2 separate regions of the Homo sapiens genome follow, and region 2 is linked to region 1. The links come from fine-mapping of genetic effects on gene expression. A gene starts in region 1. The other region holds a variant in brackets. All regions are shown on one strand. Distances are from middle to middle.

Region 1 (5,364 bases):
ACTCCATCATCTTGGTCAGCCCATCAACCCTGTGGAATTGGTTTTTTTTTTTTTTTTTTTTTGAGACAGTCTCGCTCTGTCGACCAGGCTGGAGTGCAGTGGCACGATCTTGGCTCACTGCAACCTCCGTCTCCCAGGCTCAAGCAATTCTCCTGCCTCAGCCCTCCGAGTAGCTGGGATTACAGGCATGTGCCACCACACCCGGCTAATTTTTGTATTTTTAGTGGAGACGGGGTTTCACCATGTTGGCCAGGCTGGTCTCAAACTCCTGATCTCAGGTAATCCACCCGCCTCGGCCTCCCTAAGTACTGGGATTACAGGTGTGAGCCACCATGCCCATCCCCATAATTGGTATTCTTATGCCCCATTCCACAGGTGAGAAAACAGGCCTGAAGAGGTCCCAGCCGATAAAAGCAGAGCCAGGATTCAGACAGGTGTGTCTGGCTCCCAAGCCCTGCGGCTACTCCCTCACCAGGCTGCGTCCAATGGTCTGCCAGTGAGTTGGCTTGCTGGCAGACAATCCTAGTATATCTCTTTCCCTGTCTGAGACCCAGTTTCCTTTTCTGGGTACATGTACCCAACTCTGCCGCAGTGACTGGAGAGATTGGGGCTGGTGGGGGTTCCTTGGGAAGACTTTGTTATAGGGGCATTGAACAGGGCTTTGGATGAAGCAAAATGTAGAAGGAGAATATTTTCCTTGTGGGGAAAGGGAGATCAGAAGGAAATGGGTTATGGGTTTAGTCTAATAGACAAAAACAAGGTTGCATGTGTGTGACGGAAAGGGGCCCAGAAGATGAGTGGAAACTTCCAGTCTAATTAGCAGAAAGCAAAAGTGACCCTAGTGATTATAGCCAGGTTTTAAAAACTTGTCCCCAGTCAAGCTTAGTGCAATGGTAGGGCACGTGGGAAGCACAGCATACAGTTTCTTTAAAATTTAAAAAAATTTCACTTTTAAAGACAGGGTCTCCCTCTACTGCCCAGGCTGGAGTACAGTGGCATGATCCTAGTTTACTGCAGCCTCCAACGCCTGAGCCTCAGCCTCCGGAGCAGCTGGGACTACAGGGGTGTGCCACCACACCCGGTTAATTAAAACATTTTTTTTTTGAGATGGGGTTTCCCTATGTTGCCCAGGCTGTTCTTGAATTCCTGAGTTCCTGAGCTCAAGCAATCCTTCCACCTGGGCCCCCCAAAGTCCTGGGATTACACGCGTGAGCCACCACACCTGGCCTAGAAGACATTTTTGATGACAGTAATGATGAGAAGAGATGGCGTTTTAGTGCTCTTTGGAAACAAGTTTAGGCCTTCTAGCTTTAAGAATCCGGGCCTATAATCCCAGCACTTTGGGAGGCAGAGGCAGGAGGATGGCTTGAGCCCGGGAGTTTGAGACCAGCTTGGGCCCAGGGAGACCACCGTCTGTACAAAAAAAATCAAAAACTTCGCCGGACGTGGTGGTGCGCGCCTACAGTCCCAACTACTCTGGAGGCTGAGGCGGGATCACTTGAGCCCGGGAAGTCGAGGCTGCAGTGAGCCGTGATCGCACCACTGCACTCCTGCCTGGGCAACAGAGTGAGTCCTTGTCTCAAGAAAAAACAAAACAAAACAAAAAGCAAAAAACACATAAAATCCAGGCCTGAAAAAGCGCCCGGGCCAGACATGCCTAGCTGGAGTTTCTCCTGCCTTAGCGCACCCCTCAGGCACACGGTGCCCTGTAGTCGCCCTTGGAGGCCGCCAGCTCCTGGGGAGGCATGGCCCTTTCTGCGGGAGGTGTCTCAGGCAGGCTCCAACACACACCCGCGCTGTCAGCATCTCGCACAGTCCGCCCGAAACACCAGGGAAGGGGTTCGTAGGTGTGGGGGTGGGGTGGCGAGGCCAGGCAGCCTGGCGCGAGGGAGAGAGCCGAGGCCTGGGCCAGGAAGGCCCTTGGGTGCCGTGTGGGCGCAGAGCCCAGGAGAGCGCACTGCCAGGCCCGGACCTCCCCGCCCCTACCCCGGGAAGAGGCCCGTTCGCCGCAGGGGGAAGGCGGGATCATAGCACCTCGGAGGAGCGGCCGGTCCGGGCATGCGGGCGGCGGGGCGGGGAGGGAGGCTTCCGGAACCCCGAGAGAGCACCCGTGCCTCGCGGGCCCCGTGCCCCGTCCCCGGGCTCCCCTTCCTCTAACGCAGGGGACCCAGCCCGGGGCAGTGCCGGGCACTGGCGCTGGCGCCCCGCTCAGCCCTGCGATCCTTCTCCGCCCCGCCCCTCCCCGCTCCGCCCCGCCCCTCCCCGCTCCGCCCCCGGGCCGCCCCGCCCCGCAGGCTCGCCATTCCCGGGCAGGCCCCGCCCCCTGTTTCCGCTGGCGGCGGCGGCGGCGGCGGTGCCGGAGCGCGAGCAGAGCGGAGACCCCCAGGTCCTGCGGGCGCGGTGAGTGCGGCCCGGGCGGCGGGCGGCGAGGCGGGTCTCGAGAGCGTGCGGAGTCGCGCGGCCTTGAGCCGGCGCCGGGCGGGCTGGGCACCCCCAGGCCGAGACCCGAGAAGGGGGAGCGGCCGGGGGCGCCCACGGGAGGCAGTGTGGGCAGGGCGGCGGTGGGACGAGAGGACGAGGAACAGAGTAGGCGCCGTGCGGGAAGCGGGCCGGGAAGGGGAGGGTGGGTGCGGGGCCCGGGCACCGAGCGAAGTGGGGTCCTCCAGGGGATGGCTCCGAGGAAGACCGTTTCAGAAAGGGAGTAACCCGGGGCCGGCAAGGGTTTCCGACTGTGTGACCCCGTGCACCGCTTGGGACAGTCCATACAAGGACCCCAGAGAGGGCCAGGGGGCCTTCGGGCAGGGCTGGGATATGGCCTGCAGCCCCCCGGCACCCGCGACCGCTCCCTGGGCCACTGCTGGAAGATCAGCACTCCGAGTGACAGGACTCTGGCACATCCCGAAGTTGGAGATCTAGCCCATCTGTGCATTCAAGTTTGGGACTTCAAAAAACTTTCTTGTGGTTTTTAAAAAAAGATCCAAACAAGAAACCGGCTTGTTGTTGTAAGAGCAATATTTGTACTTGTACATCTTGGAACTGGAGTCTTGGATCTCCTCCCTCTTTGAAAAATATACGAGTCACTGCTTCATCTTCCCCCAAATGCCTGTTTTGTCTGGGGAAGCTTGGGCTAGTATGGGATCCCCTGAGCTACCTTTTTCTCGCATCACCAAAACGGGGGGTAAGAAGGCAGGGGCTTACCTGCCTTACCTGGTAACTCTTAGTTCAGAGACCCAGTCTCTCATTATGTGCGCGTGCCCTTCTGACCTGCAGCTGTCCTTTTCCCTGGGGTGACTCAGGTATTTCCTCCTCCAGGAAGCTTTCCTGGACTAGTGGAGAAAACTGAAGACTCATGCGAGGATCCCTATATATACCTGCCAGCTCCCTTCTCTTTACTGAAAATAGCCACAGAGAATGTTGAATATATGCTTTGCTATAGAGATACGCAGCCAGCTTGCCATCATAAGTAATGGGGAGGGGAGGAGAGGGATTATGGATAATTTCAAACAATAGCCTGGACAAATCATTTATATTTAGCTAAGGAATGCAGCCAGAGAGGCAGACAATTACACCGGCTTCCTACCCTCGGCTTGGTCCTGGCATGGCTGATGCAGCTGGGCTGTGGGTTGGAGGGAGAGGATTGGGGTAGATAAAACTTGAAGTGTAATTCAGTTCTACTCTCACTCACTGAAGACGCCCTGTGTGCAAGTCCCTGAACAGGTGAGAGTAGGATTTTTTTTTTTTTGGTCTGGTTTAATCAGATTTTAATATTCTGGCAGAGCTTTTTAAACCTATGAACAGATATTTAATATTAATAACAATAACTAGTGTTGATAAAGTAATTTATAGTTGGCCAAGTTTTTTCTATGCACGTTACATTAGCTGTATATAATTTTATTTAATTCATACGTAATCTTGTGAAATTTGTTACTTTTTTTTTTTTTTTTGAGACAGAGTCTCACTCTGTTGCCCAGGCTGGAGTGCAGTGGCAGGATCTCAGCTCACTGCAACCCCCGCGTCCCAGGTTCAAGCCATTCTCCTGCCTCAGCCTCCCGAGTAGCTGGGATTACAGGCGCGTGCCGCCACGCCTTCTAATTTTTGTATTTTTAGTAGAGATGAGGTTTTGCCATGTTGACCAGGCTGGTCTTGAACTCCTGACCTCAAGTGATCCACCTGCCTTGGCCTCCCACAGTGCTGGGATTATAGGCGTGAGCCACCGCATTGGCTGAAGTTTGTTACTTTTAATTGCCTTCTTATAGGTTAAGAAAATGATACTCAGAGAGAATAAGTATCTTATCTAAGGTCACAACACTCATTAAGTGAAAGAAGCAAAACTTGAACCCTGGCTTCTGACCTTCCTGCCTTGTGCCATCTATTCTGCCATCTGCCTCTCTGCCCTTCTTCTATTTTATTTATTTATTTTTTTCTGAGACAGACTTTTGCTTTTGTTGCCCAGGCTGGAGTGCGATGGCACTATCTCGGCTCACTGCAACCTCTGCCTACTGGGTTCAAGTGATTCTCCTGCCTCAACCTCCCAAGTAACTGGGATTACAGGTGCCCGCCACCACACCTGGCTAATTTTTGTATTTTTAGTAGAGATGGAGTTTCGCCATGTTGGCCAGACTGGTCTCAAACTCCTGACCTCAGGTGATCCGCCTGCCTTGGCCTCCCAAAGTGCTGGGATTACAGGCATGAACCACCGTACTTAGCCCCTTCTTCTATTTTTTTTTTTTTTTTTTAGAGACAGGGTCTTGCTTTGTTGCCTGGGCTGGAGCACAGGGACACAAGCAGCTCACTGCAGCCTCCAACTCCTGGGCTCAAGTGATCCTCCCACCTTAGCCTCCCGAGTAGCTGGGACTATAGGTACAGGCCCCATGCTCAGATAATTAAAAAAATTTTTTTTTTTTTTTTGGTAGAGACAGGGTTGTGCTATGTTGCCCAGGCTGGTCTCTGGTCTTGAACTCCTGGCCTCAAGCAATTCTCCTACCTTGGCCTCCCAAAGTGTTGGGATTACAGGCGTGAGCCACCACGCCCAGCCCCTTTCCTCTATGTTGAGCCTTGTCTTCACCTGGCACCACCTATTTGTGCAACCTTGGGCAATTTACCTCCTCTTTCCAACTCTCTGTTTTGGTGGTATATTGGATTAGAAATATTCTAGAGTCTCTTCCAGCATCAGATAATTAACAGTGTAAGATATTGGCAGCCACTCAATCAATTAGGAAGTGTGCTTTATATAAAAAATTCTAAAATTGTGGTTAAAAAAACACTGAATGTAAAATCTTTTTTTTGTTGTTGTTGTTTTTGAGATGGAGTCTCACTCTGTCGCCCAGGCTGGAGTGCAGTGGCATAATCACAGCTCACTGCAAC
Region 2 (5,364 bases), 210 kb after region 1:
ACGCATGAGCGGGCTGGCCGGGAGTGCCCACCCCGCCCTGCTGCCCTGTGGAGGGAAGAGGATTGAGCTTTGTGTCACCTGCCTGCGCTCTCCAGATATGACCCCTGCACCCACCCCCCACAGCCTGCCCTACCCCACCTACCCTGCCTCAGCCTCGGACTTCTCAGTGGGTGGAGTGCCAGGGAGGAGGAGGCACACGGAGACCTGGGGCTCGGGGCCCCTGGATTCCTGCATCTGCATATGCGTATTTGCCAAAGACGACAGGGTGGGCTGGGGTGCGCTCCGGAGGAACCCCCGGCACTGATGGGCTTCTGCCCCTGCCCTTCCTCACACTGACACTTTGTCCCCACATGGGGTGGGGAGCAGAGTGCCCGCCCCGTGGAGATACCGCCCCAGCGGGGGCTGCGACATCCATGGCCACCATGGGGCACCTGGCGGGGCGGGGGTCTGCCGGCCTCTGGGCAAGGCCCCTGGAGCATCTCGCCCAGGCTTTTTATACCTTACAATGTAACTTTTTTATTTTATTTTACTCTATGATTATTCAGGAATATTATCTCTCAGATAAGTTTAGGGTTAGATTTCTGATTTGTAACTTTTTACTGTGTTGATTTCTTTAATGGTTTGACTTTTTTTCCCTGAGGGTGAGGGATGGGTGGGAAGAGAGGACATCTGTCCAGTCTCAATCAGGACAGACCACCGTGCGACACCCAGGAGGCTCTCGGATGGGGCGCGCCTGCGCCCTCAGAACGTGTGGGAAGGAGGGGGCGTGGACAGGACACGGGACCTTGCCAGGCCTGGTGTCTGAGGACAGGAGCCTGGGAGAGGCGGGTGGAGCGTGAAGCAGGCTGGAGGTGCCCCTGCACGGGAGGTGGCGTTTGCTAACCAATCGAGCTGGAAATGCCAGGGCAGGGGGGCCCCACGGTGCTGTGGCAGAGCTAGAGGGGTCCTTAGACTTTTCACTGATGAGCAGTTGTTGGTTTTTTCTTTCTCCCTTCCTCCCGCTCTCTGCTGGCACGCGAGGCTTCCCCTTCCACCCCATGTGGGTATTCCCACAACAGGTTCTGCACACCCCAGTTATTTCACAGACATTCCTGCTAGAAACTGTCAGACAAATACCTCTCTAGTTCGGATGCTGCTCACTTTCCCCCTTGCTTCTGGAAGGGGAAGCAGTCCTTAGGTTTTGCTGTGCTGGGACAGTGGCAGGGGACCCACAGGGGTGAGGACCCACGGTCCTCCCCGCCAGCCTTGCTCAGCTGTGGGTTGCCCTGCTGGGAAGGAGGGAATCACGTCCACCTGGGTCCCAAGATCTTCGCCTCCTTCCCTGGGGCCACGGACATCAGCAGTGGGTTGGGTGGCGATTATATCATCTGTGATCCCAAGGAGAAGAAATACAGAAAACCCAAGAGAGGTCAGACTGGCTCTTGTTACCGGAGCCACGGGAAGAAAGCAGCCGGAGTCACGCACGTGCAGAGCTGGGCATGGGAGAGAAACGGGCTGGGGAGTGAGGCCAGGAGTGGGATTCAGCTGCAGCAGGGCGCCCCCTCCAAACTGCAGCTGGTCTGGCTTACTGTTTTGCCGTTCAAAAAGGTCGCGAATCCGTGGGACTGAGCACGGGGACCTCACCCGCTAGCCAGCGTCTGCTGCACTTGATCAGGTGGGGCCTTGGTGGGCGGCTGCCTTTCCTATACAGTTTGTCTTGTCACCCTGGTTTCCCACTGGGGCCAGGTCTCTTCTCCAGCCTCCACCTGCCTGTCTGATCCAAGAGCTGAGACACGGCCACCCAGCACCAGTCACTCCTCTGTTCACCTTAAGTAACACACAAATCGGGAACAGGAGGACAGAACCGTTGGCATTATCAGGATTCGTGTTTTGTGGGGGTGGGAGTGGAGAGTAGGGTGGTCTTGTGAGTTGTGCAGGGTGAAGACCGCTTCCCTGAGACAGGGGCAGTGGTGCTGATGGAATGTGGGGGAGGCCCACATTTGAGCAAAGCTGCCCTGCCCTTGTCCCCTGGCCTGGCTTCCTGGTAAGGAGTTTCAGCCGCCTCCGCAGGAACCCCCAAAGTGCAGATTCCGGAGCAGACACATCCGGGCGGAGAGACTCAGCAGACAAGTGCTGCAGTTGCACGGTGGGACCCGGGGCCTCGTGCGTTTTTTGCTGTGGGTGGGGTGGGTGGGTTGGTTTATGCCTATCAATGCAATTTTTAATTTTTGTTAATATCAACAGCAAAAGCCTAGTGCATTGGGAGATGTGCAACCTCCCTGAAAATCTTTTCTGTTTCTGGAGTACTTCAGGGGTGGCCTCTGGCCCCAGAGC[C/CTTTG]TTTGCCACAGTGCTCCCACCAGCCCCCACCTCATCCGTCTGTTTGCAGAGCCTCATCTACAGGTCCCCACGCTGCCTTCTTTACTCACTCTGCGCTTGGCCGTTTTGTTATTTGGCTTAGTCTACATTGGGCGGAAGTCTGTGTGCACAGAGTGGGTGTTCCTTCGAGCCCCTTCCACTCAGAGGGCCACACCCAGCGATGCCAGTGAAGGTGGCACAGCCTCTCTTCAGTTTCTCCTGACTGTGATCTCACTGGGGTAGAATTCCCCTGAGAGAATTCCCTCACTCACGGCTCCCTTTGCCAGAGTCAGTTCAATCAGGTCTGATGTGAGCAATTTACACACTTGTCTCAGAAAGTCCCTCAGGGTTTGTAGAGGACTGCAGGGGGGCATCCGCTGCAGACTCAGCCTTTCTCTGCAGCCATCCTGCAGTGGGGGTGAGCGGGCACAGGCTGAGAACTGCTCTTGGGTGGTGGAAGCAGGTGTCACGGTGCAAGTCTCCCCCTGCACCCCTCCCCCAGCTTGAGCCGTGTCACCCCCCTCTCCCTCCAGCATGGGCCTGTGTCTCAGGCTCTCTGGAAGGTGGCCCTGCCCCGGACCCTCTTGCAGGTGTCCTGGTTTGACTTGGAACTAGATGGCCATCTTTCCAGGCTTTGGTGGCCCAAGAGCAGTCTGGGTGGATGGAAGTGGCTGTCCCCTCCTCTCCAGCCCCTGCCCACCCACTGGTGGAGGTGCTAACTAGCAGGGACGTGGCATAGGATGGGAGCTGGGCGTGAGGTGCTTGGGGTCCATTCTTTGTCCCTCAGCTTCTCAGAGTCCGGCCAGCCCTTGTGTTCCCGTGCCCCACACTTTCCTCCTCCCCACTGCAGTGAGTCAATAGTCCAGGGTGGGGCCTGGCCTCCCTGCCCTGATTGGGGACTCAGGAGGTGAGGCCTGGGGGGCTTCCTGCCCCCTCCTTGCCCACCTGCCTGCCCCCGGGCAGCACGGGAGGGAGAGCAGGGTGAGCACGCTTGTTGGTTTCAGATGCACTTTCTGCTTGCATTGCCGTATCTGTGCGTTCCTTCATCCTGGTCCTGGCTTTATGGAACACCATGTTTTTAGCATGTTTTTAAATAAAAACGGATAAAGTGTCAAAAGCACAGCAGGCTGTCTCTCAGTGGTGTGTTTTGTTCACTCAGCCAAAACTGTGACTTAGGTCGTGGTTGGTGTGAGGGACCCAGAGGGATCAGATACCACTCCTACCCTTCATCCAAGACACACCCCCAGGGGGACCTCATCTCTCTTTTGGGGCCCAGGTCACAGATCTGCTGGCGTGGGGAGGGTCTCTGTCCTCTCTGGGTGCCTGAGGAATCCTAACATCCCCCCTCGAAACAGGCTGGATCAGGGGGCAGTCCCAGTGCCCGAGGCCTTCTGCCTGAGAGGCTGAAGTCCTGTCTCCGTACCAATCACCCATCACACATGGCCAGTCCTGTGGCCAGGCCCCGAAGTGTATCGTGGGGCGGGTATGGAATAAGCCACTAGCAGCTTCCAGTAGGGTAAGGGGCTTCCTGTAGGGGTGGGGGCTGTCAGTTTCAGAAACAGTCTTCTTCCCAATCCCTGTGATGTTCCCGGGGTTCATTTGACCTTGATGTCTCGGACTGAGGGGGCCTCACAGTGTGTCTTGGCCTTTTCAGGGTGACTGGGACAGCCTCAAAGAAGGAACAAAATCAGGATGAGGATGGTCAGCAGGGAAGGCCATTAAAACCGCGAGCAGGAAGAGCTGCTGGCTGGGCCACTGACGTTGCCGCCTTCCTGCAGTCGAAGTCTCCCGCGGCCTTGGTTGGGGTCCTGGTGTGTGGGGTTTCCTTGGCTGTCAGTCAAGGTGACAAGTTGCAGATGAGAAGCTCAGAACTCCCCTTGCTGGTCCTCACTGTGTTCATGTCCCCAGGGTGGAGGCAGGCGTGAGGGTGAGTGTGCATGGGGGTCTGAGAGCAGTTGGAGGTTTGGAGGTGAGCATCTTGAAACCCCTCTGCCTGTGGAACTCCATCTCCCGCCTTCTCAAGGGAGTGGCCAGGTCCACACAGAATTATCCCAAAACATCAACCTCTGGGGCCCCCTCCTGCAGCTGCTGTGTCCCAGAGCCTCCAGAGACGGTGCCTTGAGTCTGAGCCACCCTCTGTCTAAGGTCCAGCTGGAGTGATGTCCCTGGGAACCTCCCCAGGATATTTACCGAGAGAGACTTTGTGGCTGTAGGGTCAGGATTGATCGTGGCTGAGGAGCAGGTGACCCCCTCATCGTCTGCGGAGGACAAACCAGCTCATAGGAATTTGGGTGGATGCCACCCTGTCTCTGCTCATTCTTACTCTCGCTCCTGCCCCCAGGCCTGTTGAGATGCCCACTGGGTCACTGTGCTGTGTTTTGGGGCTTCCAGGCAATGGAACACACTGGCTGTTCTCTTAACCCTCGGCTCTGGTTGCCCTGGCTGTGCGGGAGAGGAGCATCTTCTTTGGGACTTCTAGTGACGAGGCTAGCACCTCTGGGCTGGGTCTGGGCTCCTCTGTCTAGGGAGTGGCTGAGATGACCCGGGGGGGGGGGTCCCTCCTTTGCGCCCCCATTCTTGTGTGTTGTGATGGAACTGCCTCCCCATTGGTGCTCAGCAAAGGGCAAGTGAGAAAGGGTGGCTTCTGAGCCCCGCCAGCTTTCCATGGGGCCAACAGTGGCGCTTGCACAGACAAATGTCTGTTTGCCCAAAGACTTACTGAATACTCACTCGTGCCAGGCACCTAGAACACAGTCGTGGACGACACAGACCCAGTCCCTGCACTTTCAGAGCCGACCATTTAGTGGGGACCCCAGAAGAGTGCCTGTGATTGCAAGTAAGTAGTGGCAGCAATGTTCACAGGGCACTGGGAAGCCCTGGGGGACAGTCACTGGCTGAACCTGGGGAAGTGAGGTCTCCAGAGCAGGTGATGTCAAAGCTAAGAGCTGAAGGTGGAGGTGTTCACCTGGCAAAGAGAGGCAGGAGATGTGTCCTGTGGATGCTTGTGGTCCACAGAGCTGGAGCACAAAGGGT

Evidence for each region. PIP is the estimated chance that this variant, and not a neighbour inherited with it, causes the effect. A credible set is the group of variants that fine-mapping cannot tell apart.
Region 2: its variant is the best candidate, but not a certain one, in a credible set for the expression of TSPAN9 in subcutaneous fat (GTEx, PIP 0.89).

What each region holds. Positions count from the first base shown.
Region 1 is chr12:3,075,054-3,080,417 of GRCh38, forward strand. TSPAN9 (tetraspanin 9) reads left to right here and starts at 2,326. Exons shown (of 9, transcript NM_006675.5): 1 at 2,326-2,400. RefSeq lists silencers at 1,832-1,881, 1,932-2,431.
Region 2 is chr12:3,283,109-3,288,472 of GRCh38, forward strand. TSPAN9 (tetraspanin 9) reads left to right here. Exons shown (of 9, transcript NM_006675.5): 9 at 1-3,451. The coding sequence ends at 8. Among named protein-coding and RNA genes, the nearest start is that of LINC02827, 15 kb to the right of the region's middle. RefSeq lists enhancers at 1,118-1,618, 1,619-2,119. The variant C/CTTTG (reference allele first, on the strand shown) is at 2,314.